Homo sapiens: one gene and its partners. The protein of the gene in region 1 interacts with the protein of each later gene in a pairwise test. Each region holds a gene or a part of one and is shown in the gene's direction. Other genes may lie near its edges.

Region 1 (4,522 bases):
CATAGTGGGAAACCTGAAATATTTAACTACAACTCAGCTCTCATTCTGGAGAAGAGATAACTCTGAGGGTTGTGGCTGAATCCTGGTGTGAGGTCACAGAGACCTGAGAGCAAAGAGGGAAGGAATAATGTCTCTCACTGTGGCTTTCCAAGAAACCTGGAAGCCAGAGTTTAAAATAATATGATAGTAGCTGGTATGTATGCATTAGGCACTGTTCCGAGTGTTTTACATGTTAATTGACTAATTTTTACAACAATAATCTCATATGTAGTATTATCTCCATTTTACAGATGAAGAAACTAGGCACAGAGAAGTTAACTCGCTTGCCCATGGTCACTTGGCTATTTGAAGTGGTAGAGTCAGGATTCCAATCCAGGCAGCCTAAGCACAGGATCCGGTCTCTGGAGCACTATACTCCAAGCTAGGAAGCTAACCTGCTGGGACTACCTTTCCCCTCCCAGTATGTTGGGAAGTGAGCTTCCTGCTCTACTCTGATTACAAAATCACTACGTAGCTCAGTTAGCCTGTCAGTCCAGTGCGTGGGCCGGGGGGCGGGGGTGGGGGGTAGTGAGCATGGTCTCTCCCCACCTTCCACCTGTGACCAAATGGCAACGTTTTGTTCTGAGGACTTTAAAGGCAGTGGCTTTCCAAGGAGCCTGAGAGTGAGAATCCTGTGTCCTGGGTTTGGAAAGGGCCCTGTTGGCCACTTCACTGCAGGCTGCACCCTTTCTTTCCCAGCTATTATCGCTGACCCTGGATGGACTGACTGGTGTTTCCCAGGACCACATGCGGGCTCATTACCAAACAGGCTCCAACCACATGATGCTGAACATCAACCTTTGGTCGACATTGCTGCTGGGAATGGGTGAGAGCCAGTTCTGCTGTTCTTCCCATGTATCACCAGAGGGCAGGCTGCCCTCATCCTTTTGATCCCTCTAGCTGTTAGTTGCCCAGACCAAGGGCCTGAATTAGTTCCAAGATGCCCTTTTGTTCAAGCCCTTGAGAAACCTTCCTGGAAAAACCTGCACCAGCAGGATTTGTTTGCTACTTGTTACTGGCACAATGAAGGAGAGTCGTGTGTCAGTTGTCATGGGAAGACACTCAGTAGTAAAACACAGGGAGGTACCTGGGAACTTTCCCTTTCATGAGGGAAATGAGACACACGTAGTGCTCACAGGAAACAGAGTTAGCTGTACACTGAAGACAGTTCAAATGTGAATGATTTGCTTTGAAATCAGTGCTTCCTAACTTTTCAAATTTGGGCACATGTAGAAAGTATTTTTTATACAGCACACTGGGGTTAATGGTGGAGGCTGCTGATGGCTGAAGGTGACTAATGCGAGGGGCTTCCTTGAGCTAAGGATGTGTGGGTCAGCATCTCTACAGCATCTGAGGATTTCTGCTTGTAATCACTTTGGTAGAAGTAACTCATTAACTTTCAAGCCTTTCTCACAAAATTCTCTTTAGTTTCTCTAATCAGAGAAAAATATGAGAAGAATCAATGATGAGACGATGCAAACCCACACCATACACTTTCCCGCGTCCCACCTCCCTTGCAGTTCTTTAACAGGCCATGTGCAGGAGTGTCTGTGTGTGTGTGTGTGTGTGTGTGTGTGCGCACATTTTGTGTGCACAAAATGCGCCGTACATTTGTTGACATGTCTTCTCAGGAATCCTGTTCACTGGGGAGCTCTGGGAGTTCTTGAGCTTTGCTGAAAGGTACCCTGCCATCATCTATAACATCCTGCTCTTTGGGCTGACCAGTGCCCTGGGTCAGGTGAGTGCTTGAAAGGGGATGGCTTGGCTTCCCTACTCTGGCAGCTGGTTCCCTAAGAAAGACTGGCCTGGCTGGAAGAAGAGGGTGGCAAGATTAGCCCTGAGGTCTGTTTATAGACTTTAGACCAATGGCAGATACCCAGAAGCCCACCGGACCTCACCTTTATCTTTCTCTAGAGCTTCATCTTTATGACGGTTGTGTATTTTGGTCCCCTGACCTGCTCCATCATCACTACAACTCGAAAGTTCTTCACAATTTTGGCCTCTGTGATCCTCTTCGCCAATCCCATCAGCCCCATGCAGTGGGTGGGCACTGTGCTTGTGTTCCTGGGTAAGTGGCCACACAGAGACACAGTGACAGCTGAATTTTTTCTCCTAAAATTTACTTGTATATTTATGAAATTTGTTTAAATATTTTAGAGAAAACTTTTCTCTTTTTTTTGAGACGGAGTTTCGCTCTTGTTGCCCAGGCTGGAGTGAGTGCAGTGGTACGATCTCAGCTCACCAATCGGGTGAGCCTCCTCCTCCTCCTGGGTTCAAGCAATTCTCCTGCCTCAGCATCCGGAGTAGCTAGGATTACAGGCATGCACCACCATGCCCGGATGATTTTGTATTTTTAGTAGAGATGGGGTTTCTCCGTGTTGGTCAGGCTGGTCTCGAACTCCCAACCTCAGGTGATTCCCCCCGCCTCAGCCTCCCAGAGTGCTGGGATTACAGGCATGAGCCACCGCGCTCAGCCCAGAGAAAACTTTTTTAAAAGAGAAAAGAGGCTGAGTGTGGTGGCTCACGCCTGTAATTCTAACACTTTGGGAGGCTGAGGCAGGAGTATCGCTTGAGTTTAGGAGTTCGAGACCAGCCTGGGCAACATGATGAGACCCTTGTCTCTGCAAAAAAATACAAAAATTAGCTGAGCATGGTGGCAGACGCCTGTGGTCCCAGCTACTCGGGGCTGAGGTGGGAGGATCGTTTGAGCCCAGGAGGTGGAGGCTGAGGTGAGCTGTGATCACACCACTGCACTCCCACCTGGGTGACAGAGTGAAAATCTGTATCCAAAGAAAATAAAAGGAGAAAAGGAAGCTTTATTTCTAATCCAGCCTTCCTAGGGTCTCCCTCTGTTGCTCAGGCTGGAGTGTAGTGGCATGATCATAGTCCACTGCAACCTTGATCTCCTGGACTCAAGTGATCCACCCACCACAGCCTCCCGAGTAGTTGCGATTATAGGCATGTACCACAATACCTGACCAATTTTTTTTTTTTTTTTTGTAGCGATGGGGTCTTGCTGTGTTGCCTAGGCTGGCCTTAAACTCCTGGGCTCAAATGATCCTCCTGCCTCAGTCTCCCAAAATGCTGGGATTGCAGGTGTGAGTCACCACATTCAGCCATAGCCTAGAAGTTTTGACTCTTAAATTTCTTTTAGTCTTGCTGTATTATATATGTATCTATATCTATCTGTATCTCTATATAGATATATTTATATAGATACAGATATCTGTAATAACTAGTATCCTGGTGCCATTCTCTTGTCTCTGAGGAAGTTACATAAAACCAGTGTTCTGACATGTATTTTATTTAAAGCCCCCATTTTGGAGATACAAGGCCGACTACCCCACCCCACCACAATCATTGGTAAGTTTCATTTCCCCCCATAAGGCTAAGCCCATTTTCTTCCTTTTCATAGGTCTTGGTCTTGATGCCAAGTTTGGGAAAGGAGCTAAGAAGACATCCCACTAGGAAGAGAGAGACTACCTCCACATCAAGAATATTTAAGTTATTATCTCAAACAGTGACATCTCTTGGGAAAATGGACTTAATAGGAATATGGGACTGAGTTCCAGTCTTTTTTAATAAAATAAAATCAAGCAAAATCACATATTCTAAAAAATGCACTTGGATTTTAACAAGACAGAGTGGTGGTTTTTGTTCTTCATGCCCTGGAGCAGTCTATGGTAAATAAAAGAGGGAGGGAAGAGGCAGAGCTGGATGTTCATTACCCAGGCTGCTCCTCTCACGGGTGTGGTTAGCATGGTTGAGTGGGCGATTCCTCCAAGAACCTGAGGATTATAGGGAGGAACTCTGTGAGATCGCAGAATTGTGCTAATGGCTTCTGTTCCGATGGGTGAGGCTTGTCCCGTTAGAGCTGGTCCCATTAGAGGACGGGTGGCTGTCCATTAGAGCCAGAGAATGTAAAAGTCACTTCCTCTCCTAAAGCTCCTGTGGGCAAATATTTCATTAAAAAAACAAAGTTGTGTTCTGTCTTTTTCTTAGGCCTGGTGCAGTGGCTCACACCTGTAATCCCAGCACTCTGGGAGGCTAAGGCAGCAGGATCACTTGAGTTCAGGAGTTTGAGACCAGCCTAGACAACATAGTTAGACCTTGTCTCCACTAAAAATCAAAAACAGAAAAGAAATATTCATTGAGGCTGGGGTAAAACGAACCCAGAGTTTCAGAATCTACTGTTTTGCCATTTCCCCACTGCCTCCCCTTCAGCCACAGCTCTATCAAGACCAGAGTGGAGACCCAGTGCATACATCATGATCAGCTTTGGAAGGTCTGTGATGTACTTTTCCTGATATTCCCCCTCCATCTGTCTGTCTGTTCTCAGTCTACCTGGTCCCCTCCAGGGAGGCTGGGTTAATCCCTCCTATTCCCCTGCCTCCTCCAGCTGCTGAAGCATTGCAGTCCTCTGCCATCCTTTGCTGTGCCAAGGTGTCACCATGCCAGCTTCTGCCTGTTGAAAGGGATGCTG
Region 2 (7,061 bases), on another chromosome or scaffold:
TTGCACAATTTTGCAAAAGCAGACACCAACTATTTCAGTACATTTTTCTGTATACCTCAGTATTTAAAAAAAAGTTTGTTTTATACAGTCGTTAACATATAAAAGTGCATTTACGATGTAATGAATTCTGAAGTAGATCACTTGTGTTAGTAAAGAAAAAGAAGTAGACGCTGCTTTACTTCAAATTCTGTTTAAACCTTGGAAGTAATTTTACCTAGATTTCAGATTTGAAACTTGGTATTTTATGTGAAAGATTTTTTTTGTCTTTAAAATTTTTTACATGATAAAATTCCATTTATAATGTATTACACATTTTATTTTTCTACCTATTAGCAGTTTTTTTAAATTTTTTTATTTTTTGAGACGGAGTCTTGCTCTGTTGCAGTGGCTCGATCTCGGCTCATTGCAGTCTCTGCCTCCCGGGTTCAAGCAATTCTCCTGCCTCAGTCTCCAGAGTAGCTGGAACTACAGGCATGCACTACCATGCCCAGCTAATTTTGAATTTTTTGTAGAGACGGGATTTTGCCAGGCTGGCCTCGAACTTCTGACCTCAGGTGATCCGCCTGCCTTGGCCTCCCAAAGTGCTGGGATTACAGGCGTGAGCCACCGCACCTGACCCCTATTAGCAGTTTTGTAGAAAAGTTTGAAGAAGAAAGTTTATAAAATGCTAAAATAAATTTCAAATATATTCTTAATGATCAGAGAGAGACGAAAATAAACCAAAATCCTTATGTTGAGAGTGGCCGATAACAATAAATCAACAAAGAAAATTAAGCTCTCTGAGGGATCGAGGGACGTATGGTGTTAACATCAGCTAGTGCATCTGCATAGAAGCAGCACGGGGCGGGGGGGAAATTAGAGAATACTCCTCTGGATGGATATTTAGCACATTTTTAGGTGTTTCCAGTCGGCTCTTCATGTTTCCCAGTGGCTATACAAAACGCCTGGGGCTCTAAAGACATGAATGTAATCTTTAATCATATATTACTCCATTCCTTAGTTTTTAGGTAACTCTCAATTGCTCACAGAATAAAAGTCAGATTTTTTTTTTTCAGTAAGACATACCATCTCTTCCATGATGTGCCTTCCTCTTGTAACACCTGTTAGTCTGTACACATCCATACTTTCTTCCCTGAGAAAGAAAAACCCTGCTCATACCCAAGGTTCTTTGTTCCTCTATTTTTGCTGGCTAAGGTAAAATTCCTTATGACTCAGACCATGTTCCATGAGATGTTTTCCTGCTGGTTTTCAATCACTGGCTGCATTGTTTTAACATATAAATACACCAGAGTCTTTGATTTTAAAAACAAATGAGCAGACATGTACTTCTTTGACCATAACTCTTTCTAGTATGTGTCTCTCCCTGTCCTTCATTTCCTTTGCATTCAGACTTTTTGGAAAAATAGTCCATATTCACTGTTTTTCCAGTTACTCACCTTTTATTCTCTCCTTAGTCCACGGTACTTTTATCCTCTCACTACTTATTGCTAACTTAATCATTTCCAGTTTTTATCTTACTTGACCTCCCCCTGGCTCTTGACAGTACCGACAGTTTCTCTAAAAAAAACCCTCAATTCTTCTGGCTTCTATAACAGCATTGTCTTCTAATTTTCTTATTTGCTCCATTTATTGTCTTATTTGTGGCATTTTCCTCAAATGCTCATGTTTCTGAGATTCTGATTTGGTTTCATTTATCTCACTCTGTGAACTTTCTTTGTTCATTTCATTGTTTTGAGGTTTTCTCTTTATCTTCCTTGCTCTCTGCAGGTATTGCTACACCCCCAAGTCTGTTTTAATTCACATTTTACCGTCAGTCAAGAGCACATACTCAAACAACTTATTCACTATTTAGATTTGAATATTGCACAGATATGATATTCTAAACTCAAAATATCTCAAAATTTTTACTACCCATGCCTACTCTTCTTCCCATATTTTTTATTTTTATTTTTGAGATGGGGTCTTGCTCAGTTGCTCAACCTGGAGTGCAGTGGCATGCACGTTCTTGGCTCACTGCAGCCGTGACCTCCTGGGCTCAAGTGATCCTCCTGAATAGCTAGGACTATAGGTGCATGCTACCATGCCCAGCTAATTTTTTACGTACATATGGGGGTGCCGCTGTGTTGCCCAGGCTGATCTCGAACTCCTGACCTTGCGTGATCCTCCTGCCTTGGCCTCCTAAAGTGCTGGGATTACAGGCCTGAGCCATTGCACTTGGCTTTATTTTTATTTTTTAGTGGCATCATGATTACTCACACCAGAAACAATATGCATATCTAATAATTAAAATCTGTGTTTCTATTTTTGACATAATCCCTTTGTCCACTTCAATGTGTTTCTACTTCCAAATTCATTTATTTTTAAAATTCATTCAATTATGGATCTAATTTGATTAGATTTGAGTATCTGCTACATGTCAGGTATGATGAATAAATATTGGAACTACAGTTGTGAGTGAAACACAAGCCATGTTTTCATGGGGCAGTTCTAACAAGAGAGATAGATACTAATAAAATAATCAGAAGAATAAAGTGTACCCCTGAAGAGCTATATAGTGCTACGAGAATGTAAAATAAGGGTCTTCGATCAGGCTGTCACAGTTGAACTAAGATTCCAACAATGAGTAAAAGTTATCCTGGTGAAGAAGAAAGGAAAATGCATGTTCAAATATCCGGTAGCAGGAGGGACTGTGAAACATTTACCATACTGAAAGAGGTCGGCGTGGCAGTGGTGAAAATAGTCAAGATGAATGTAGTGCTGGTTTAGTAGGTCAAGTTAGGAGTTTTGTTTTTATCCTGAGCCACTAGGGTTTTTAAGTGAGGGGAGGAGCAGTAAAGATGGAGGGAATCGAATAACATCACATTTGCATTTAAAAATAATTCTGGTAGCAATGTAAAATTATACTAGAGGGGAGAAAGAGATGAATTAGGCGGCTGCAGCAGTACTGGCAAGTGGTGACCCCTTGGACTGAGGTCATGGTATTGGAGGTGATGAAAAGTTAGGTTGAATCTGTGAGACTTGGTGGTCTCTATGTGCACTGAGAGAAAAGGGTATGAATGTCTGAGATTTCTGCTTATATAACTGGGGAAATGGTGGTGCTATTTGAGAAACGGTGGATGTCTGGATGAGGACGAAATGCATCTTATTTGGGGGTGTGTGAGAGAGATGGAGGAGGAGGACGTATGGTAGATATGTTTAGGTCTTTCAGGATATTAACATGAAGGTGGATTTGGTTAAATGGGTGTGTTACTTAAGAAAAGGTCTGGGCTTTGGATAATTTCCTTACTTCAGGTCCTTTTATATTTACTAGTCAGCAGACATCTCCTTTTCTTTTCTTTCTTTCTTTCATTTTTTTCTTGAGATGGAGTCTCGCTTTGTCACCCATGGTGGTGTGCAGTGGCGCTATCTCGGCTCACTGCAACCTCTGCCTCCCGAGTTCAAGCGATGCTCCTGCCTCAGCCTCCCAAGTAGCTGGGATTACAGGCGTGCACCACCATGCCTGGCTAATTTTTGTATTTTTAGTAGAGACGGGGTTTTGCCCTGTGGGCCAGGCTGGTCTCCCTGACCTCAAGTGATCCACCTGCCTCTGCCTCCCAAAGTGTTGGGATGACAGGCGTGAGCCACTGTGCCCAGCCTCCTTTATTGTCAGCTCTTTACCCTGTCCTCCACACTGCTGCTGGAACTACGCTTTGGAAAAAGGAGGCTGTTACTGTTAGTCCCTTGATTGAAGAACTCTAAATGTTTTCTTACTATGTACTTGAAAAATCCAAAATCCACTGCCTAACTCTCCAGCCTCAGTGTCTATTCTTTTTCTTCTGTCCATAACTTTGGCTATATGAAACCATTTTCCCAAACACTCCAGGCCACTGCAATGCTTTGCACAGGCTCTGCTTAGAATATTGTCCTCCCTCACGTCTGTCAGGCAGCCTCTTATTTCAAGAATCACTTCCTCTTGAGAAGTCGTTGATACTCTACCAGTCCAAGTTGGTCAGAGCCTTCATGCCACTGTTGAAGCTTGTGCTTACCTGTAATAACAGTACTTTCACATTAGATAGTAGTTAGGCTTACATATTCTCCCCTCCCAAACTATACTATGAACTCTGAGTATATACCTGTTAATGTTTGTAGTAACAAGTTCTGGCATCATAAAATGATTGCCCAGTAAGTGTTGATTGAATTAATAAGACTCAGATGATTTCTCCAGTAATTTTTATTTTTTGGTCTTGGATCTTGACTCAGTTGGAGTTTTCACCTGCTTTTGCAGGTAATAGTGCTTTCAAAATTTTGTACTTCCAGAAAAGGGGTGGTAGGCTATTTTGTAAAGAGCTGACTAACCCTAAAGGTAGGTTGTTTGATGTTTGTGTTTTTTTCATTTGTAAAGTAAGAGGTTAGGACTAGGTGATTTCTTGGGTGTTCTGTCTTTAAAAGTTTGTGTGAATATATGACAATTGAGTACAAAAAGAAAATGCTATTTTTCTGTGAAGCAGAAAAATGCATATAAAGAATAGGGAAAACTATACTTTTAATCCTTTAAAAAGATTTCATTGTGTATATTTGAGGTATACATATAACATGATGTTATGGGATACATATAGATAGTAAAATGGTTACTATAGTGAAGCAAATTGACATATGCATCATCTCAACATAGTTTCTTTTTATCTTACCTTTACTGACCATTTAGTGAAATCTTATTTGCCTTTCAGAGGTGGAAGTTGATACAGGATGGATCTTGCTCTCTTTTGATCATAAAGTTAGTTTTGGAAAAAAATTAAATGTGCGAGAGGACTGTTAACTTGCAAATGCTTGTTTACTGGTTTAATTCATTTTATAACTGAAATGTGACTCAAATTAGTTTTAAATTAGTAAGTTTTAAACGTTTGAAAACTTTCAAACATGAGCACCTTATAATATGAACCTCAGTATGCGTTAATTTAGTAAATTAAATTTAAATATAAATTTAATAATTGACATTTTACTATAATCATACGTGTTTATTTATATATTTTTGTTTGCCTCCATGTTTGTATTTTTTTGCAGCGGTCTCACTCTGACACCAGACTGAAGTGCAGTGGTGCTGTTATAGCTCACTGCAGCCTTGAACTCCAGGGCCCAAGCGATCCTTCTGAGTAACTAGGACTACAGGTGCATGCCACTGTGCCCAGCTAATTATTATATGTTTTATTTTTTGTAGAGACAGTCTTGCTATTTTGCCCAGCCAGATCTTGAACTCCTGGCCTCAAGCGATCCTCCTGCCTCAGCCTCCCAAAGTGCTGGAATTACAGGCATGAGCTACCATACCTGGCCTGCCTCAGTATTTTTAAAACAAATCCTGAATGATAGCATAACATTTCATCCCTAGATACTTGAGTTTGCATTTATAACCAAAAAAGGACATTTTCTTTGCATAATCATGATACTGTTAACACGTAATAACATTAACAGTAATTCTTTGATATCCTCTAATATTTAGTCTATTACAAAGAACAAAATCACACTTAAGAGTTTATTAATGAGCAATCTCAATGGCATAGGAAATCAGGTATACCTGGTCTCACAGGAAGAGGCTGTTTATAATCTAGATTCAAGGCCAGCCAATATATATGCTGGTGACTGACCAGTCAAAATTTTGATGGCTCACCTTGAAACACAACTATAAATAGATGGTTATAGGTTTCAGACCTTCAAGGTCATATGGACTGGGAGACAAAACAGTGGCTAATTTGGACCAGTGGCAAGCAGAAGCAACTAATTGAGAGAAAAAAGGCAGAGAAACGTAGGCAGAGAGGTCTTTTGATCCCAGGAATTAGTTTCTCTTGAATACAGCCTCTTCCTGTGATGCCAGTTATACTTCATTTCCTGTGCCATTGAATTGCTTACATCTTTATGATGAACTCTTCAGTATGGGTTTTTTTAATAATAAAATATTCTTTGCTTAAATGAGATTGAATTTGATATTTTCTGAAGCCATATTTGTAACACATTATTCTTTAACATTTCACTTTATAAAAAATAAATTCTGTAATCTGTTATACATATTTCACTTTGTAATTGTTATTCTGTAACACATATTTCACTTTATAAAAAGTCTAAACTAGTGTCTTCAATGCTTATAAAAGAAACCTCCGTATCATTTTTGCTGACTTATGCATCATTAATATACCATAGCATGCTTAGCTGCTTTTCTCTGGTGTTTGGATGTTCTTTATAACTAGTTATCACTAATGTTTGATACTGTTCTGAAAATTCAGATTTAAAGGAGTGAGAAGTTTAGTTACGTATCTTTTAGCTTTTTAAGGAAATGATTAGATTGAATTACCGTTAAAAAGTAGGGATGTTAATTAAAAAAGAATTGTTGCTATGAGAGGACTTTTAAACTTTTAGCATTTTAAGGAAATGATTAGATTGAATTACCGTTAAAAAGTAGGGATGTTAATTAAAAAAGAATTGTTGCTATGAGAGGACTTTTAAACGTATGTTTATAGTATAACTTGACAAATTTCTCATGGGCCTATGTTTTGACAGCTCTTTTGTAGCTGTATGTTTCATGTATGTGTGTATATGTGTGAAGTGTATATGAATATGTATATAATTTTAATTCTTGAATAATATGACATGGAGTGACTGTCATACTTTAAAGACATAGGGTGCCTTTAAATCATACAGTGTTTCCTGTTTAGTTTTTCCTGTGAAAAAATTTTACTTTTTAAAGCCTGTAGGGCCAGAATCTCTTGGTCTTGTTTTCTGAGTACTGTTCCCACTGAGAAAAACCTCACTAACAACAGATCCCCAAAAAATCTGTGGTTCTGAATTTTTTCAGTTTTTTCTTCCAGGATTTTACAAGTAAGAGGATTTATAAGCAAATTAAGCTACTATGGGTACATGTTTAAAAGTCCCTTGTTATATAAAATCAGTGCTAAATTAGAAAATGGAAAAAGTATAGATATTATAAAGCTGTCTATGGCCATACCACCCTGAACGCGCCCCATCTCGTCTGATCTCGGAAGCTAGCAGGGTCTGGTTAGTACTTGGATGGGAGATATTATAAAGCCAATAAAAAT
Region 3 (7,090 bases), on another chromosome or scaffold:
TTTGTTGGGTAATAAAGTATGACTCAGGTGAAAATTGTGAGATATTTTATTTTTTAATTGACAAATAACAATTGTATATATTTATGATGTACCACATGATGTTCTGACATATGTATACATTCTAGAATGGGTAAATTGAGCTAATTAACATATGCATTACCTCTACATATTTTTCATTATTTTTGTGTGGTGAGAACACTTAAAATCTACTCTCTTAGCAATTTTCATTTACAGTATGTTGTTACTGAACTGTCATCATCACGGTGTGTGAAAGTTTTTGACTCCATAGACTAAATAAATAACTTCAAGCAAGTCATCAAAGTCATTATAGCACCAGTTTCTTCATCTGAGGATTAAACGACGTCTAGCACCCTGCCTAATACATGTTAAACAGCCAGCATATTTTAAAGTGCCTTCAAAATATAGACAAAAAGCAACACAATACAATACAAAAACATATACGATATAAAATGTCTTGCTCTCTCCTTTTTTTTTTTTTTTTTTTTTTTTTTAGAGATGAGGTCTCACTATATTGCCAAGGCTCGTCTTGAACTCCTGGGCCCTAGTGATCTTCCTGCCTCAGCTTCCCAAAGCGTTGAAATTACTGGCATGAGCCACCTTGCCCAGCTGAAATAAGTTTCTTTCCATAAAGTTCTCTGCTATCACTATTATTATTAGAGATCTCCAAGTAAAATTAAGATTTTGCTGTTGATGAAGAAAAGGTTTACAAACCAGTAGATAACATTGTTTTCTTCAGAACCTTTACTGGAAAAGGGTCCTGATTCAGACCCCAAGAGAGGGTTTTTGGATCTCATGCAAGAAAGAATTCCGGGCGAATCCATAGAGTAAAGTGAAAGCAAGTTTGGTAAGAAAGGGCCGAGCGAGGTGGTTCATGCTTGTAATCCAGCACCTTGAGAGTCCGACCGAGGCGGGCGGATCACTTGAGGCCAGGAGTTCCAGACCAGCCTGGTGAACATGGCGAAACCCCGACTCTACTAAAAATGCAAAAAATAGCAGGGTGTTGTGGCGTAGGCCTGTAATCCCAGCTTCCTGGGAGGCTGAGGCACAAGAATTGCTTGAACCTAGGAGGCAGAGGTTGCAGTGAGACGAGCTTGCACCCCCACTGCACTCCAGCCTGGGCGTCAGAGCAAGACTGTCAAAAAAAAAAAAAAAAAAAAAAAAAAAGAAGGAAAGGAATAAAGAATGGCTACTCCATAGACAGAGCAGCGGCATGGGCCGCCGGTTGCCCATTTTTATGGTTATTTCTTGATCATATGCTAAACAAAGGGTGGATTATTCATGAGTTTCCGGGAAAGGGGCGGGCAATTCCCGGAACTGAGGGTTCCTCCCCCTCTTAGACCATACAGGGTAACTTCCTGACGGTTGCCATGGCATCTGTAAAATGTAAACTGCTTTGGCATTGGTGGGAGTGTCTTTTAGCATGCTAATGTATTATAATTAAGTTACAATAAGCAGTGAGGACGACCAGAGGTCACTCTCCTGGCCATCTTGGTTTTGCTGGGTTTTTGCCGGCTTCTTTACTGCGCCCTGTTTTATCAGCAAGGTCTTTATGGCCTGTATCTTGTGCTGACCTCCTATCTCACCCTGTTGACTTAGAATGTCTTCACCTCCTGGGAATGCAGCCCAGTAGGTCTCAGCCTTATTTTACCCAGTCCCTATCCAAGATGGAGTCGCTCTGGTTCAAATGCCTCTGACAGAACCGTGTGAAATAACACAAATATTCTGGCTAAATTCCAGTGTGAGTGATTAACATTCTCCAACTTCAAATAATTTTTATTATTAGCCAACACTTGTCCATCCCCAGTAATACACACGTTGCATAAAGAGCACAGAATGAGATGGGCCTCCCTTGGCATGTTCATAGTCTGCACATACTTTCCACTGAGGGCTTCCCTTTCTTGCTCACTGCTATGCCCACAGCTTTTCAACTCCCACTATTTTCAACCCTGGGATGCTTCCTGACCCAGAGTGGCAAGTAATTCCAAAACACAAGAGATAAAATATGAACACCTGTAGAATTCCAGAGAAAGAAAGATGTAAGGTATATTTATTCATTTATTTAATTATGTATTTTAGAGTTGGGGGTCTTGCTATGTTGCTCAGGCTGGTCTGCAAACTCCTGGGTTCAAGCCATCCTCCCACCTCAGCCTCCCAAAGTGTTAGGATTACAGGCGTGAGCTATGGCGCCCGGCCTTTTAAACGTTTATTAATAGTTTTGATATCCGCGAAGTGATTGATATTTGTTCCTTTTTAACTTGGAGGCTGGGATTAACACACGTGTTCTTCATTATTGCCCACAAAGCGTTGTTGATACGCAGGAGGGGAGTGGCACTTCCGCAATTTATTCTTCCAACCTGTGCCAATGGGATCCAGCACAGGAGATGGACAGTAACCCGCGGTTGATCTGGATCTAGTCCAGTTAGTCCAGTCCCTATCCCTTCAAGTGTCCCCAGGCCCTCTTGCCTATTTTCGCCCTTTGCCCAGTGGAAGGAAAAGTTTGGGGAGAAGGAAAAAATTTAAACCCTCTTCCTAGGCGTGTGAATGTATTTCAAGTATGCTAAATACCTCAGTCTTCCAATCTAATTACAACACATAGAAAAGAGGCATTTTTAGGACATTTAAAACTTGTAGCATAATTGCGCAACTGAAGAGCGCCGCCGTGTCCCCGCCATCGGTGCGCCCTCCGACCCCCCGCGGCGCGCAAGTGCGCGGCTTAGCAGCAGGCAGCCGGGGACGGAAGGGCACGGGGAGGCCGGCGCCCTGCCCAGCACAGAACCCTGGGTCGGTATCGCTTCTCTCTGCGGGCGACTTCGGAACTGCCTGGGATTATAAACCTCGACCAATAAAGGACTCACATCTTTCTGGGTCTTCTAAAGGCAGAAAGAAATCCATTTTCTTGTCACAACAAGATTTTGTTAAGAGATGCAAAAGTAAAGGTCGAAGCCAGGGAGGCTGCGATAGTATGGGGGGAGGGGCGGCTACGATGGTGAGTGCCGCTGACCAACTACCTGGGTTCGAATCCCAGGGTTGCCATTTGGGCGGCTACTATGTGCCAGGTGATCGGAATACGGAGGTGAACTTGCTTGCCGAGGTCGCCCTTTCTTGGGGGAACTATGATTAGCTCGGTTGCCTTGGCCAAGTCTCAGTCTCGGTTTCTTCACCTGTAGGAAGTACCTGCCTCAGAATTGTTGTAAGGAGTGAGATCTTGTCTTAAGATGTAAACGGGCCGGGCGCGGTGGCTCACACCTGTAATCCCAGCATTTTGGGAGGCCGAGGCGGGCAGATCACGGTGTCAGGAGTTCGAGAACAGCCTTACATGGTGAAAGCCCGTCTCTACCAAAAATACAAAAATTAGCTGGGCGTGGTGGCGGGCGCCAGTAATCCCAGCTACGCAGGAGGCTGAGGCAGGATAATCGCTTGAACCCGGGAGACAGAGGTTGCAGTGAGCCGAGATCGCGCCACTGCACTCCAGCCTGGGAGACAGAACAACTCGTCTCAAAAAAAAAAAAAAAAAAAAAGGATGTAACCGATTAACACTTTGTTGGGCACACAGTAAAGGGCTCAGTAAGTATCCTCTCTTCTTTCACACAGTTCCAAGACAGCTCGGAAGGGAGACAGCCACGCCTAAGAGTGATTCCTTGAGCAGTTCTTTCAAAGAAGCACTGAACTCTGTAAGGACGCTTAGCTGCAGGCAGAAAGGGCAGGGGCCCTGGGAGCAAAGGTGCATAAGCCAGGAAGTTACAGGAGCGAGTCCTGCACCCAGGGCGCGGGCAGAGAACTCCGGAGGGACTTCTGGCAAGGGCTTCCCGCCCGGGTGCCCAGAGCGGCATGATTAGCATTCGCCCCGCCCCCATCTCCTCCAGGCCCGCGATTGGTCAGCGCTCCTTGGCTGCCCGCTCCTGGCGGGGCCAGAGGGCGCCGGGGGAAAGGCCGAGCCCGCGGGGCAGTGGGCGGGGACGCGCGGAGAGCTTGGCGAGGCGGCCCACCAACCGCGCCCGGGCCTGAGGGGGCGGAGCCGGGGCGGGGCTTCCCGGCGGGCATTAGAAGCAGGTGACCCGGGCGGGGCGGGAGAGGGCAGCCAGCCTGCGGCCGTGAGTCCGCTGTGGTCGCCGCCGCGCGCGGTTCCGTGCTCGCCAGAGGTGGGCGAAAGGGTGCGAGAGCGCGGGGGAGGAGCCGAGCAGGGCACGTCCCGAGAGCGTCGCCACCGCCCCCAGGAGTCCACTGGAGCGCGGAGCCCCCTGCAGGGGAGGAGGCGAGCGGCGGGCGGGACGCGGCGGCCGGCGCTCACCATGCAGTCCCGGCCTGGCCAGCGCCGGCTGCTCGCGGTGCTGTGAGGCGGCGGGGTCCCACGGCCCCCGCCTCCCGCCTTCCTCCCGCCCAGGTGCTGCCAGGCGCGCTCGCCCTCCGTCCGGCTCCCGGCCCCGGGGAGAACGCACGGCCTGCCCCTGCCCGGCTCCGTCTGGATCATGCGGGGGGCTCCCGAGGAGGAGAGGGCGAGTGACCGGCCTGCGCCGCCCCTGTTCTGGGGGCGCCCCCCACTCTGAGTCGCCCCCACCTGCTGCCATGTGCCGCTGCCACGGGTACCCAGCCTGTCGCTAAACTTTCCGGGCGCCAGCCCGGCTCTGAGTCGCGCTTCTCAGCGGAGTGACCCAGGGACGGAGGACCCAGGCTGGCTGGGGACTGTCTGCTCTTCTCGGCGGGATCCGTGGAGGTGAGAACCTTCCCTTTCTCCCTGTTCTTCTCCCGTTTCCTGTGCCCTTTTCCGGGAAGCTGAGGGTTCTGGTCTCCGGGCACTGCCTGAAGGGCCCAGCTTGGAAAGAGAGGGTGGGGGAGTCGGTAGTTTGGTTACAGGAGGCGGAGCGGGGAGGAAAGGAAAGGGGTTAACTTAAGAGATTTGGAGACAGCTCGCGGGGACCGAACTGTTGACGCCTCTCCAACAGGGAGTGGTTGCAATCTTTCTTCTCCCCCTTCTTTTTTAAAGAGTCCTTTCCCTGGAATCCGAGCCCTAACCGTCTCTCCCCAGCCCTATCCGGCGAGGAGCGGAGCGCTGCCAGCGGAGGCAGCGCCTTCCCGAAGCAGTTTATCTTTGGACGGTTTTCTTTAAAGGAAAAAGCAACCAACAGGTTGCCAGCCCCGGCGCCACACACGAGACGCCGGAGGGAGAAGCCCCGGCCCGGATTCCTCTGCCTGTGTGCGTCCCTCGCGGGCTGCTGGAGGCGAGGGGAGGGAGGGGGCGATGGCTCGGCCTGACCCATCCGCGCCGCCCTCGCTGTTGCTGCTGCTCCTAGCGCAGCTGGTGGGCCGGGCGGCCGCCGCGTCCAAGGCCCCGGTGTGCCAGGAAATCACGGTGCCCATGTGCCGCGGCATCGGCTACAACCTGACGCACATGCCCAACCAGTTCAACCACGACACGCAGGACGAGGCGGGCCTGGAGGTGCACCAGTTCTGGCCGCTGGTGGAGATCCAATGCTCGCCGGACCTGCGCTTCTTCCTATGCTCTATGTACACGCCCATCTGTCTGCCCGACTACCACAAGCCGCTGCCGCCCTGCCGCTCGGTGTGCGAGCGCGCCAAGGCCGGCTGCTCGCCGCTGATGCGCCAGTACGGCTTCGCCTGGCCCGAGCGCATGAGCTGCGACCGCCTCCCGGTGCTGGGCCGCGACGCCGAGGTCCTCTGCATGGATTACAACCGCAGCGAGGCCACCACGGCGCCCCCCAGGCCTTTCCCAGCCAAGCCCACCCTTCCAGGCCCGCCAGGGGCGCCGGCCTCGGGGGGCGAATGCCCCGCTGGGGGCCCGTTCGTGTGCAAGTGTCGCGAGCCCTTCGTGCCCATTCTGAAGGAGTCACACCCGCTCTACAACAAGGTGCGGACGGGCCAGGTGCCCAACTGCGCGGTACCCTGCTACCAGCCGTCCTTCAGTGCCGACGAGCGCACGTTCGCCACCTTCTGGATAGGCCTGTGGTCGGTGCTGTGCTTCATCTCCACGTCCACCACAGTGGCCACCTTCCTCATCGACATGGAACGCTTCCGCTATCCTGAGCGCCCCATCATCTTCCTGTCAGCCTGCTACCTGTGCGTGTCGCTGGGCTTCCTGGTGCGTCTGGTCGTGGGCCATGCCAGCGTGGCCTGCAGCCGCGAGCACAACCACATCCACTACGAGACCACGGGCCCTGCACTGTGCACCATCGTCTTCCTCCTGGTCTACTTCTTCGGCATGGCCAGCTCCATCTGGTGGGTCATCCTGTCGCTCACCTGGTTCCTGGCCGCCGGCATGAAGTGGGGCAACGAGGCCATCGCGGGCTACGCGCAGTACTTCCACCTGGCTGCGTGGCTCATCCCCAGCGTCAAGTCCATCACGGCACTGGCGCTGAGCTCCGTGGACGGGGACCCAGTGGCCGGCATCTGCTACGTGGGCAACCAGAACCTGAACTCGCTGCGCGGCTTCGTGCTGGGCCCGCTGGTGCTCTACCTGCTGGTGGGCACGCTCTTCCTGCTGGCGGGCTTCGTGTCGCTCTTCCGCATCCGCAGCGTCATCAAGCAGGGCGGCACCAAGACGGACAAGCTGGAGAAGCTCATGATCCGCATCGGCATCTTCACGCTGCTCTACACGGTCCCCGCCAGCATTGTGGTGGCCTGCTACCTGTACGAGCAGCACTACCGCGAGAGCTGGGAGGCGGCGCTCACCTGCGCCTGCCCGGGCCACGACACCGGCCAGCCGCGCGCCAAGCCCGAGTACTGGGTGCTCATGCTCAAGTACTTCATGTGCCTGGTGGTGGGCATCACGTCGGGCGTCTGGATCTGGTCGGGCAAGACGGTGGAGTCGTGGCGGCGTTTCACCAGCCGCTGCTGCTGCCGCCCGCGGCGCGGCCACAAGAGCGGGGGCGCCATGGCCGCAGGGGACTACCCCGAGGCGAGCGCCGCGCTCACAGGCAGGACCGGGCCGCCGGGCCCCGCCGCCACCTACCACAAGCAGGTGTCCCTGTCGCACGTGTAGGAGGCTGCCGCCGAGGGACTCGGCCGGAGAGCTGAGGGGAGGGGGGCGTTTTGTTTGGTAGTTTTGCCAAGGTCA
Region 4 (7,965 bases), on another chromosome or scaffold:
CGAGACTCTGTCTCAAAAAACAAACAAACAAACAAACAAAAAACAAAATGAGAAAAGAAAGGAGGGAATGGAAAGAAAGTAGTATAAGCTTGCAAAAAAAAAAAGTGACATACTTTGCTACTTCAGATATACTAGTCTGTTTCTTCCCCTCTGAGATACTTATTTCAGCATTCAACAAAAATTTATTGAGTACCTACTATGTACCAGGCATTGTCCTGGACACTTAAGATATATCAATGAGCCTAACGGATGCAGATGCCCTGTGGACCTTGTATTCCAGTGGGAAAAAAACAGATATTTAACAGATATTAAAGGGTGAACATACAAAATAGATAAACTACCTAATCTATAGCTCGTAAATAAATTTATTAATATAGAATATATGTCATAAGAAATATATAAAATATGAGATAGATATTATAACATAGTTTATAAAGAAATTATCCAGTACATTAGAAGGTAAAATGTGTCATTATAAAAGAAAAGGAGAGATTGGGACTCCTGAAGGGAACGGGAGAAGGCAGGCTCTGACGTATTAGGTAGAGAGGTCAGGGGAGGCCTCAATGAGAAAATGACAGTGGAGCAAAAACTTGAAGGATATAAAGGCATTAGTTCTATGTAACAGATTGTTTCTTTTTGGCATCCCAAATGATCAGAACCAAATTTGAGGTTCAAGCACAGTACTCTAGAGGCCCCTGTGGTCTGTACGTTTGTAATCTTTTGTCCTCGAGAGGCAGGATAGGACAGTGGTTAAGGGTATCGGTTCCACTGTCAACCTGGATTCAAATACTGCCTCTACCACTTACCAGCTACGTGACTTAGGGCATCATATTTCATGTCTCCCAGCCTGAGAGAAATGCCTCCCTATGCTTCAAAATGAAGATAATAATAGTACTTACCTCACATGGCTCTTTTAAGGATTAAATGAAATAATGTACACAAATTCCTTTGCACACAAGAATAAACTCAATAAAAAAACAGCTGTGATTATTGAGCTTTGGTCATGTCACTCAACGTTTATTTACATTTTCTTTGGTCCTGATTCTTTATCCTCATTGATATTTTAACATTGTTTTATGGATCCTGCCCCTTTGGTAAGCTACTTCAAATCCTTTGTGGATTGGGGTAAGTTATAAGTAAGTAAATAAATACATAAATAAAAATCTGGATAGGGGGACATTTTCACTGAAGCAAAGCATTTCATTACCAAGACAGTGAATTGCAAGTGGGCCAAAAGCAAGAAAGATGGACTCTAATCTCTAACAGTCCACCAAGAACCACCAGTAAAACACTCTCTGGTTTCTCAGACCATCTTTTTCTCCCCATCTCCTCTTTCTTAAATCCCTCTTCTTCCCTCTATCATGAAAGGGTAAATGAGTTACACAAAACGGCTCAAGAAGACTCCTAAGTCGTCACAACCTCACAACTATTTCGTTGCCATGGGCCTCACAGGACTCTTCCTCATCAGAGAAGAGAAAGGAAATCAAAGCAGTCACTTTCCGTGTGTTGGCAGGGTGCTGGTTAAGTGAACAGAGTCAGACATAAGCTAGAATCTCGTTTAGTGAGCTCTGTGGCCTTGGGAAAGCCCCTGGACCTTTCTGTGCCTCCTATTCCTCCTTGGTAATAGCAGTCCCTCCTAAGGTGTTTTGGCAGATCAAACGAGAGAATGCAGGGAAGCAACGTGGATAGCTTATTTTTAAAGCCCTCAGAAAATGCTAGATTTCCTTCCTGAACTGCACCCTGGGGTAACACTCTTCAATAAGAGGGTGTATAGGGTGGAAACAGGGTGAGGAGACTAGTTTAGGTATATCCCTATCTGACAGAAACTCAATACAAGAAACAAAAGAAGAAAGATCTTTGTTGTTGCTGTTGCCTTACTACTTTCTAGAGGTATTGTCATACTTCTTCCTTCCCATAGCCCTTTAAGATGGGCATTATTATCCACATGTGACAGCTGGGGCTGGGCTTTGAACCCAGAGCACACAGCTAGGAATGTTTGCGAGGCACCGCTAGCTTTCCGAAGTTGCCTTTACAAGGGCAGCCATTAGCCTCCACCACAGGACATCAGAGGCAGCACTGACAGGAACCTGTGAGGCCCCAGTGCACCTGGAGTACCATGACTCTGTGACCCCTGAGCTGGGGACATCAAGAATCTGGGCCAGGCTGATGCCACTGAAGCTCTCTAAGCCCTACTTTCTCCCCTTCCTTCCATCAGCCCAAAGGGCTTTCATGTTAAGGCATCCCTGCTTCTGTGACCACGTGCTATGGAACTGGCTAGATCTGAATTTGAAACACACACCTCTTAAGTGACCTTAAGTAACTCACTTATTCCTTCTGCTTCCTCTACTGAAATTGGGGATGTCAAAAGGCCTACCTCCCACAGATGTCATGAAGATTCAATAGAGCAGTGCCTTGAGAAAACACAAAACACTACCTGGCACATACTAAAGTGCCCATGTATAGTAGCTGCTATTGTTCAACTGATGCAGCCTGGAGAAATCAGCCTCATGCCGAACCATGGTGATGATGCTCTCGGGGGGTAGGGAGCAGGTCCTGGCGTACAGGCTGAAATGTCTACTCACACTTCCACACAACCCAAGCAGTATGGCCTTTTTACCCAATATATAATCCTCCCCCACCCCACAGGAAACTCCTTGAGGGCAACACAGGGACCTAATTGGGTCTAGGTCTCTAGGTCTTTTCCTAGGGGAAAAAAAAAAAAAAAAGACCAATTGAGGCCCAGCCTAGGGCCTCCCAATCAGTGCCGTTGATCCACAAACATGTGCTGATGGGCCCTTCTGTGCTGGGAACTGGGGAAAGGGAAGACACCCCGCCCTACTTTCCAGGAGTTCATAGTGCACCTGGGGAAAAAGAGAAGGAACCACTATCACAGCAGACAGAAAGTAATGAGAGCTGAGTGTCCCTGGAAATGTGGGGAGAAGGAGGTGGTATTTAAGCTGGACCTTAAAAATTAGTCAAGACATGGGAGGGATGGCATTCCAGACTGAACAGGGACAACGTGAACAAAGGCCTAGAGACAGGAAAACACAGGGTTTGTTTAAAAAACAGATTAGTGAGGTGAGGCTGAAGGATTGGGATGGGAGGGGATTGAGATGGGAGCTGGCAATGAAGCCAGTGAGCCTCAGGGGCAGGGAACAGAAATAAAAGTCATAGCTGCATGGAGAAAATGAGGAGGGAGGGCCAGCAACTTTAAACAGGATAGTTACAGCAATTATCTTAGAAGCGACACATTGAGCCTGGGCAGGGTGGCTCACGCCTGTAATCCCAGCACTTTGGGAGGCCAAGACGGGCGGATCATGAGGTCAGGAGTTCGAGACCAGCCCGGCCAACATGGCGAAACCCCGTCTCAACTAAAAATACAAAAATTAGCTGGGCATGGTGGCGGGCGCCTGTAGTCCCAGCTACTCGGAAGGCTGAGACAGGAGAATCGCTTGAACCCAGGAGGCAGGGGTTGCAGTGAGCTGAGATGGAGCCACTGCACTCCAGCCTGGACGACAGAGCAAGACTCCGTCTCGGGGGCGGGGGGGTGGGGGGAGTGACACTTTGAAGAGGTAAAGGAGTAGCCGTGTGACTATCAGAGGGAAGAGTTTCCAGGCAGACAGACCAGCAGTGCAAAGGTCCTGAGGCCACAGGGCTGCCACGCCGATGATGCATTAAAAAGGCCAATGTGACTGGAGCGTGGGAGAAGGGGGAGGGTGGTAGAAAGAGAGGTTAAAGAGCTAAAAAGGAGCCAGTTCCTGAAGGGCTTTGCAGGTCATGAGGGGCCTTTAACTTTCCCTTGGATGAAATGGAGTGCTAGTGTAGGATTTCCAGTAAAGGAACGACGTGCTCTGACTTAAATTTTAAAGGATCGCCTTGACTGCTGTGTAGAGAATCAGCTGCAGGGGGCCAAGGGTGGAAGCTGGGAGACCAGTAAAGAGACTATAATGGAAATCCCGGGGGGCGGGGGTGGATGGTGGCTGGAACCAGGGTGGTAGCTACGTGGTGGCTCGCCTCTGATTCCCCGTGTAAAAAATGGAGTTTAGGATCCCTGCCCTGTGTGCAGCCCACAGCCTCAAGCCCCCATGGGGATGGAATGCCGGAAACCTCTGGCCAGCGCACTAGCAGCCTGGAGAATACGGAAGATTGTGGCAGGATTGTGGGGCACATGGGCAGCTCCCTGCTCGTCCGGGCCCCTGGTGCCCACGAGAAAACCAAAACAGGTGCGTGCCCCGCGCCGCACGTCAGGAGGGCAAGACTCAGTGGAGGGAGGGGCTGTCCACTCGCTCTAGCTCCCCAGAGGCTGAACAGGGAGAACTGGGAAAAAGGACGCCTCCTCAGCGTCCTAGAACGAGTCCTCGGCACCTGGTATTGCATGCGCCCTAGTATGGGGCCGCTCCACTTGCGCAGGTGTTGGCAACATGCGGGGAGCGCCACGGCATGCCCCCAATGAGCCGACTCCCTCCCCCAACTCTGCCCCCTTTGTCTCGCTGGCCCCTACTCCTTCTGTCTGCCTGTCTGTCCCGTCCCAGGTTCAGCGCGCACGGCCCTGCCGGGGTCCCTCTGGCAGTTGCCGTAGCCGCGCGGCCCGACCCGGGGCTCCCAAGAGGAGAAAAAATCATGAATGAAATGGATGCGCTGCTCCCACTCCTCCGCCCTCCTTGTCCAAGCAACCTTGGCATGGGGGCGACGACTGCGGAGACTCCGCGCAGAGTTGCTCGGGAGAGGGAGGCACCTGAGATGAGGTCAGGGGTTAAGGGTCTGTGATCCGGCCCCCTTCGTGCCCCGGGAGCAGGCCGCTCTCCCGGTCCCCCGCCCCGCCAGCCCTGCGCAATTCCCGGCGAGCGGCGGAAGCCCGCCCGGGGGCGGGGCGGAGCCGGGGCTGGGGGGTGCCAAACCCACCCGGCGGCTGCGCCAGCGACTCTGCAGCTGAAGCGCATTTGGTGAGGCGGTCGGGCGAGGGAGCGCGCACGGAGCGCGGGACGGAGCGCCAGGCGGACGGACCGAAGGACGGAGGCACCGAAGGACGGACGCCCCCGCACACGCAGACGCACAGAGCTCGGCGCGGCCCCCGTCGCATACACACTGGCACAGACACAAGCAGGGACACACGCAGACACACGCACACTCGCGCGCGCATCCTCCCGCCAGCCTGCCCGCCTGCTCGCCGGCGCCCGGAGCCCGCTCTGGCCGGTAAGTGCGGCGCCTCCGTCTGCGCCTTTGTGTGCGGAGCCGGAAGGTGGAGGGCGCGGGTCCCTCCTTCGGGCGGCCCCGCAACTGACACCTTCTCCAGCCCTCCCGGCCGAGGAGCCGGCGCCCGCCCCCGCCACGCCCCCGTGGGGCTCTGGGCGCCCGCATGCTGGGGGAGGGGTCCCCCATGCAGAGGAGGGGGCTTGTCGCTTGGTAGCCGGGAGGGAGCGGCAGCCACTCCCCACGAAGCCCGTGCGCGGTTCCGGGGAGGAATCGGGATAGTGGTTTGGGGTCTGAGCCTCTGCGGCCGGCGGAGGCTGGTGCGCGGCTCTGGGCTGCATCGCCTCTCCGGAGCCTGAAGCCCCTGAGGGAGATTGGAAATCGCCGCTAGCCTTCTGGCCTCTAAAGCGCGGCTCCCAGCCTTCCCATTGCTTCGCCTCCACCGACCCTTTAGCTTTAGCCTCCCGCGTCCCACCCTCCCCTAGAATACAAGCTTAGCGCGCTCCCCTCCCCCAGCATGCTGCTTGTTTCTGGTTGAGGCCCAGGCTCCTGCAAAACCGGAGATTGCCCGGGTCAGAGCCTTGGGAGGCTTACCTTATCAAGGATCACAGGGCTTAGAAGATCAGGGCCAGACGAATCCTGGGAACTTATTCAACCTTCTCATTTTACAGATGGGGAAACTGAGGCCCAGTAAGGTGGCGGACCAAGGTCACCAGAGAGTTAGTGGTAAAGCTTTCATTAGAATCTAGGGTTCCTGGTTTTCATACTCATGCTCCCCTCCTACACAACTAGATCCCACCCACATTGAAGCCCCAGAACCCCAAAATTCACCTGAGTGTACCACGAAAGTGTGTAATTCCAGCCCTGCCCCACTTGGAGGGGCAGGTGCCATTCATTTTCTACCTTCCCTACCTATGGTACCAAAAAAAGGGGAGAGGGGGCTTTAATTTGCTTCCTTCAACCTCAAAGGAGAGCTCTCATAACACTCAAACACTCCGGGTTTGGGATTCGTTTGGGAGAATGAAGAAGCCCAGGACCTGAGATCAGATTCCCAGGCGTTAGTCCTGATCCACCCAGGACACACTGAGCCTGAGTGTCCTCAGTTGGACCAGGTGATGTGGCATCCCAGGATTCGTCCTCTTCTCCACTGTGTCCTGACTGCATGCCCTCCCAGTCACCCTTCCCTCCCGCTTGAGGGCCAGATCTTCTACTCCAACCAGGCCCCTGTAGTCATCCCTTTGCGGAGGTCCCCACCTCTTTCTCCTTGGGGCTCGTTAAGGGCAGCCTCTTGGTGCTGCTGACAAAGCTGCTGGGGAAGCTTGAGTTACAATCACACCAGGTTCGGGTGGTTTCTCAGCACGCGGCTCCCTCAAGGGCAGCCAGGTGTCCCCAGAGCTGAGCCTGATGCCTGGTGCAGAGAGGGTGCCCCGAGAGATGTGTTGAAGGAGTACAAGCATAGACGGATGGTGAAGGGATGGAGTCAGTCACCTTGGAGGAGACTGGATGGAATAGTTGGCAAGGAGGGCAGTGTTCAGTCTCCAGGGACCTGAGGTTCTGGTCTCAAGAACTTCCTTTTTTTATTTTATTTCCATAGATTTTTGGGGAACAGGTGGTATTTGGTTTCGTGAGTAAGTTCTTTAACGGTGATTTGTGAGAATTTGGTGCACCCATCACCCAGAGTATACACTGAACCCAATGTGTAGTCTTTCATCCCTCATCCACCTCCCACCTTTCCCCCAAGTCCCCAAAGTCCATTGTGTCATTCTTATGCCTTTGCATCCTCATAGCTTAGCTCTCACTTATGAGTGAGAACATACAATGTTTGGTTTTCCATTCCTGAGTTACTTCACTTAGAATCATAGTCTCCAGTTCCATCGAGAACTTCCTTTTTGAGGGGGGTGAGCAGCTCATCATGGAGCTGAGCCAGGGTGGCCAAGTGGCAGAACTTCAGGGGCTGCCACTGACAGTGTAGTCCATGTAGATGGCATTGGCTATGAAGTTTACACAGACTTCATAATGAATGGTGGCCCCTGGGTTTTTGCCATGTAGGGATTTCTGCCTTGAGAGTGAAGGGATCTGGATTCCAGTCCCAGTCTCTTCCTCACTGGCTGTACGGTGTCAGTATATAACCCTTTTGGGTCTCAATTTCTCCATCCAAAAAAATAACATCATTGGATTGATGATGTTATGAACTATTTGGCGGTGGGGTGGGAGCACGTATTTATGTAACTGCTATGGGCTTCTTTTGCTTTATGAAGGAATAATTTCTGACTCAAGAATGATGTATGTAGAGTACTTAGTACAGTCCCTAACACATAGAAAATGCTCAGGAATTGGTAGCTAGTAATTCCACTAGGACTCCAGCTTTGTGGATATACCCTATACTTCTTCCTTTCTTCAGATCATCCAAGGACATGGGATTCTTAAGGCCTCAAAGTCCTCCTCCCTCAAAAAATTCCTTTCCCCCTGACCTATTCCTGGACTTCAGGCTCAGCCAGCATAAAACATCTGTGAAAACTCCCTGGGAGGATCAACACTTTTGTTTATTCAACCTTTTGTACGTTAGCGTAATAGAATTTCATAATTAATTTGTATGTAGTGTCAAAAGCTCTTCCTATACTCTGTCACTTACTCCTCATAAGACATCCGTGACAATAGTGTTATCATCCTCATTTTGCAGATAGGGAAATTAAGGCTTGGATTTTCACTTATCTAAGGGTGCATACCTCAAAAGTCTCAGATCCAGAGAGCTAGGCCTCCAGCTCAGATGATCTG

Evidence for each region.
Region 2: the proteins of SLC35B1 (region 1) and VAPA interact in binary tests that used the Homo sapiens proteins (3 or more experiments, as listed by UniProt).
Region 3: the proteins of SLC35B1 (region 1) and FZD5 interact in binary tests that used the Homo sapiens proteins (3 or more experiments, as listed by UniProt).
Region 4: the proteins of SLC35B1 (region 1) and PTPN5 interact in binary tests that used the Homo sapiens proteins (3 or more experiments, as listed by UniProt).

Annotation. Positions count from the first base shown.
Region 1 is NC_000017.11:49,700,443-49,704,964, reverse strand, and holds the end of SLC35B1 (solute carrier family 35 member B1), read left to right. Parts: intron 1-738; coding exon 739-865; intron 866-1,670; coding exon 1,671-1,777; intron 1,778-1,953; coding exon 1,954-2,107; intron 2,108-3,454; coding exon 3,455-3,507; 3' UTR 3,508-4,022; downstream 4,023-4,522.
Region 2 is NC_000018.10:9,916,963-9,924,023, forward strand, and holds part of VAPA (vesicle-associated membrane protein-associated protein A), read left to right. Parts: intron 1-7,061. UniProt on the Homo sapiens protein: Endoplasmic reticulum (ER)-anchored protein that mediates the formation of contact sites between the ER and endosomes via interaction with FFAT motif-containing proteins such as STARD3 or WDR44.
Region 3 is NC_000002.12:207,766,907-207,773,996, reverse strand, and holds the start of FZD5 (frizzled-5 precursor), read left to right. Parts: upstream 1-4,090; 5' UTR 4,091-4,732; intron 4,733-5,002; 5' UTR 5,003-5,257; coding exon 5,258-7,015; 3' UTR 7,016-7,090. UniProt on the Homo sapiens protein: Receptor for Wnt proteins. Functions in the canonical Wnt/beta-catenin signaling pathway. In vitro activates WNT2, WNT10B, WNT5A, but not WNT2B or WNT4 signaling. In neurons, activation by WNT7A promotes formation of synapses.
Region 4 is NC_000011.10:18,788,753-18,796,717, reverse strand, and holds the start of PTPN5 (tyrosine-protein phosphatase non-receptor type 5), read left to right. Parts: upstream 1-4,919; 5' UTR 4,920-5,193; intron 5,194-7,965. UniProt on the Homo sapiens protein: May regulate the activity of several effector molecules involved in synaptic plasticity and neuronal cell survival, including MAPKs, Src family kinases and NMDA receptors.